2 separate regions of the Homo sapiens genome follow, and region 1 is linked to region 2. A link means that fine-mapping ties the variant in region 2 to the expression of a gene that starts in the linked region. Tissue or cell type: whole blood. Region 2 holds a variant in brackets; the other region holds the start of a gene. All regions are shown on one strand. Distances are between the middles of the regions.

Evidence for each region. PIP is the estimated chance that this variant, and not a neighbour inherited with it, causes the effect.
Region 1: FCER1A starts here. The variant in region 2 is fine-mapped to the expression of FCER1A in whole blood (TOPMed, PIP 0.96).

What each region holds. Positions count from the first base shown.
Region 1 is chr1:159,300,684-159,303,298 of GRCh38, forward strand. It overlaps FCER1A (Fc epsilon receptor Ia), which reads left to right and starts at 1,653. Exons shown (of 5, transcript NM_001387280.1): 1 at 1,653-1,736; 2 at 2,171-2,191. The coding sequence starts at 1,682.
Region 2 is chr1:159,643,621-159,646,382 of GRCh38, forward strand. No RefSeq gene overlaps it. Among named protein-coding and RNA genes, the nearest start is that of APCS, 57 kb to the left of the region's middle. The variant A/G (reference allele first, on the strand shown) is at 1,151.

The DNA of each region.
Region 1 (2,615 bases), 340 kb before region 2:
TCTCCTATAAGTCTTTAATAAATAATGATAATAAAGAAGACAAAAAATGTATTTATTGACCATATTTCACATGTCAGATGCTGTGCAATGCATTTTACTTCTTTTTTATCTTATTAAATCTCATAATATAACCATGACCTGGATACCATTATTGTCCCTATTATACAGGTAACCTTCAATCACATAAAAATTAGGAACATTTGAATTCAGAGCTTAAAACACAAACAACTTGTACTTTTCAAAATAACTTGCTGTTACCTTTAAGGTCTGTCATTAAAACATAGCATGTCCTGGGCTCAGTACCTAATCTTTCTTATCTGAAACTTAAATTCCTATTTATTAACCTTTTTAGCCCTATATTTTCTAATTCCATAGAAAACTAAAGGTTTTGGTTAGATCTTCATGTGGAATGACTGGTTTCATTCAATAGACTTAATTCAGCAGTCTGTGGGGAAGAGCAAGGTATGATAGAATGGTTCCTCAAGTGCTTCAGATGTGAAGTGGGTTTAAATATACTGTCCCTGTCTTCTTCAGAGTTTTGGTAAAGATAAAATAGGACACTCATTTAAAAGCAATCTTTGCAAATGACAAGCCACTATAGACATTAATAGAGTTTTCATTTCCAGTATTATCATTAATATCAGATCCTGGAAGAAGGTTGAGCCTTGACCTAGAGCAAAAAAACAGAAGAATTAGTAAAGGAATCCTGGAGAAAGCCCCTGCTGTGTATTTAAAGGAGAAAGGGAGATCATGTTGGGAAATTATAATATTAAAAGTAAACAAAAGCTAGGAAGTAAAATAAAATAAATTATATGGCCTAGATCCCCATAAGTAATGGTTTAACTTCTGCCTTCCTGTGTTCTGAGCCAGATTAGGGCACAGTAGAGAAAGAGGAGTCTCTGAAAATGTTTCCAATTTCGCTGGTCAGACAGCGGATCATCAGTGAATCAGATGAAAATTTGTGGATTTATGCACTAACTGATCAGCAGGAAATTAAACAAGAAAAGCGTTGGTAGCTCTGGTGAATCCCAAAAGAATTTGGCAGTTGCTAGCCATGCTCCTGAATATGTATAAACAGTACATCATATGACTAAGAGTTTGACTTAGGGGTTAGATTTTATGTGTTTGAACCCCAAATTAGTTATTTAATAGTTGGCACCCCAAAACAAGTTACTTAACCTCACTAAGATTCAGTTTTCCTGTTTATAAAATGTAGATAGTGATAGTATGTACTTTATAGGATTATTGTGAAAAATAAATGAAATATCAGATTTATTTAGGATAACACCTGGCATATGTTTGGTATTCAGTAATTAGTTGCTGCTGTTTTATTCTGCTCTCCCTTGCATCCCACTTTTCTAAGTTGTAAACTAAATAGTTGTACACAGATTGACAGATTAAGAAAGGCTTGTGATTGTGCTAGACCTATGCCTCTCTCTCACCAGATTCCAGGTGTATATGTGGAGGTGGGATAGGGAGTGGAGTAAGTGGGTAAATATTAAATTGCCCAGTTGGGCACCATCCTGAATATTATCTCTAAAGAAAGAAGCAAAACCAGGCACAGCTGATGGGTTAACCAGATATGATACAGAAAACATTTCCTTCTGCTTTTTGGTTTTAAGCCTATATTTGAAGCCTTAGATCTCTCCAGCACAGTAAGCACCAGGAGTCCATGAAGAAGATGGCTCCTGCCATGGAATCCCCTACTCTACTGTGTGTAGCCTTACTGTTCTTCGGTAAGTAGAGATTCAATTACCCCTCCCAGGGAGGCCCAAATGAATTTGGGGAGCAGCTGGGGTAGGAACCTTTACTGTGGGTGGTGACTTTTTCTAGGACATGTGCAAACTATTGGGCATTTCCCAGGGACTCTGTAGTGGAGCCAAGCTAGAAAGCAGAGGCAAGTGGGCTGAGCAACACCTAAGGAGGAAGCCAGACTGAAAGCTTGGTTCCTTGCATTTGCTCTGGCATCTTCCAGAGTGCAAATTTCCTACCAAGGAAATGAGGGTAGAGGAGAGAAAGAAGCTCTTTCTTCCCCTGATTCTGATTCCTGAAAAGACGGTTGGTCCTTAAAATTCCATGGATGTAGATCTTATCCCCACACCCAGATTCTAGTCCTCTGGAGATAAAGAAGACTGCTGGACACTAATGTATCCTCTCTGGACTTTTGCAGCTCCAGATGGCGTGTTAGCAGGTGAGTCCTCTGTTCTTGTTCCCTTGGTGTTTCAACATGTCTGGGCATTGCTTTCCTCTCACTATTTTCTTCGTCCCATCACTTCTGCTTTCTAATGAGCATGAATCTGTTCCTTGGCCAGACTACTTTCCCTCTCCACCTTGCCTTGTCTTTCTTTTTTTCCCTGATTCATTGCATTCTCTCAAGTCATTCTCTCCTCTGTTTTAGTCAATAACCATGTCTGTTGCACATATACATGTCTCATTCTCTCTCCTAGACACTTTGGCATGATCTCGCTCAATAATTACATTATTATTATTATTGCCATTTTATAATTGAGGATGCTGAAACTCAGTGATTTTCTGGTGGTTACATGGCTAAGGAACTGGATTTCAACGTAAGTTCCTTGGATCTAAGTCCAGTTCTCTTCTGACTATATCACCCT
Region 2 (2,762 bases):
ATTTTCCCTTTCAACTTTCATTTTGGAACTAATTTAAGTTCTACATTATGTATTTTACGTTAAACTTCTACTTTAGTAGTTTTGCGTGTGTTTAGCCTTTTATGAATGAAATTATATTATATATGTTATTCTGTGCCTGGCTTATTTGGCTCAACATTATGTCTTTGAAATTCATATATTTTTTGGTAGTGTATAGCTGTAATTTATACATGTATTTCACAATATATTTATCATGTATACTGTTTGATACTTGAGTTATTCTTGGCTTGGGGGATGCTCTAAATAGATCTGCTATACACAGGCTTATACATATCCCAGTACACAAGGATGTCCTCACATCAATTCTCCAATATTACATTTTGTAACACCATTTGGCAACAATTTAATCTACAGGGGCCTTGACCATTTAATCATCCCTCAAGACCTCACACCAGTCCACTACACTGACAGTGTCATGCAGATAGGTCCTGGAAACAATGTTACAGGGCCAATAGGTTCATATGCCTGCTTCACAGTAACATACCAATACACTGAGACAGCAGGATTTACAGCAGAGAAAGAGTTTAAGTTCAGGGTGGCCAAGCAAGGAGATGAGATGAGACTTCAAATTCATCTCCCTGAGGAGTTCTTGGCTGTGCCTTTTAAGGGGATCATGGAAGGCAAGAGGCTGGAAAATTGGGGTCATAGATTGGTAGAGGTAAGGGGCATGAAATAATCAGTATGTGGAAATTGTATTCTTTGGTGAGTTAGCTCCCCAGGGGGTCCTTCAGACCAAATGATGTCAGTAGCTTCATTAATAAGCAGGACCTGAAAGAACACCTCAAAGGAAAAACAACAATTCATAATATTCAAGTTGTTAGTTATAGAGCAATTAAGAGTAACTATAATCTTGTAACAGGTCTACATGATTCTAGGACAATAGGCACCAAATAGCTATAAGGAAGCATGTCAGAGAGCAAGCTCACATAATGATTATTGATGAATGGGCTGCAAGCTTGGTTTATTTTCACTAGCCCCCTTGCCTTCTTCCCTGATTAATTTTATAAAGTTTATAGGAATGGTTTCATTAAGAAGTAGCAAGTACTTTCCATGTTTTAGTAAGGCCTACATAGTAAGTTGCACAAAAACAAAGAAGGGGGCTGGGCACCAT[A/G]GCTCACGCCTGTAATATCACCACTTTGGGAGGCCAAGGCAGGCGGATCACAAGGTCAGGAGTTCGAGACCAGCCTGGCCAACGTAGTGAAACCCCATCTCTACTAAAGAAATACAAAAAAATTAGCCGGGCATGGTCATGTGCACCTATAATCCCAGCTACTCAGGAAGCTGAGGCAGGATAATCACTTGAACCCAGGAGGCAGAGGTTGCAGTGAGCCGAGATGACGCCACTGCAGTCCAATCTGGGTAACAGAGCGAGACTCCATCTCAAAAAAATAAATAAAGCAAAAGCATTCATGCAGCCCATTTACCTGTCATTTCAGAGTGGCCCATTCATAAAGAGCCTAGAGCCTGAAAATATCTGAACATAGCATCTCATACAAATTCCTCACTGAAGATGAGATGCTTAATAATCAGAGCATCAGGAGAACTATTTTGTTGTTGATCCCAACTCTTTTTCTGGCCAGCACATTCACTGCTAAATGAACTAATAAATTAAAGGCCGTGATGGAGGATATACATGGACTTACTAGCATGGACTTCCACTCACCAAATCTGACTTGGTTACTTAATGCTAAACTCCTGACATGGAGAAAGAGAAAATGGCATTATTCTCTATCATGAATAGGGTAGCAGTTCGTCCTCAAGAATAGACATATTACGGGTTTAGATTTGTTTCCCTGCTCATCAAATATCTGTCAGCACCACCTTTGGTGGTTATACTAAATTTCTTATGCATCATTGTGGCATCCTACATAATAGTGCCTCTGACAGAGGAACACATTTCACAATGAAAGAGAGGAATAATCTGATGCCCATGGAGGGAAATGGCCAAATTATTTTCTAATTATTATGGACTTATAAAAGGCTTTTGCAATGAGATGTGTGTGTGTGTGTGTGTGTGTGTGTGTGTGTGTGTGTATGTGCCTGTGTGTATTTGTGGCTGCTGTAGAAATTTTTAAAGTTTTTTAATTTGTATATAAAATACGATAAATAAGTTTTAAAATTTGATCACTATATTATTAAATATGCAAAGATTCATTTTCACACTATCTTTAATAATTTATAATATAAAAAGACATTTTTACATTTAACAAGTGACATGCTACTTAATTTGCTTTAAGTTACATGTGTGTATCTGACTATATTATAAATAAATTCTTAAAATTGATATTATGCTTGATTTAGAACCCAAATGTAGGTCTTTGTAACACATTGTTAGATACAATCACGACAAATTTTCTATCTTAATACAGAGAACGCTTAATGTGCCACATAAGAGTTTTGATTAGCTGAATGCCACTTAAAGATTTGGTAAGATCATCTTGAGATGAATTTGCTGAATTATTGTCATTAACTTATACTTCAACATCAAGCTTCATTATGTTTCTTGTATTTATCAACAGTTCATTATGAGTATAAATTAAATAGCATGCAACTATGAATAAAATAATTTAAAACTGTTTAATGGTCAAAACTATTAAACAAGAGTTTCTGAGTACATTCATCTGATTGCCATCAGCCACAGATAATGTTCATTCTATATCTGCTCAAGAATGACAAACTGTCCCATTTCCAAAAGGCAAACTAGAAAATGTTAGTTTATTAGA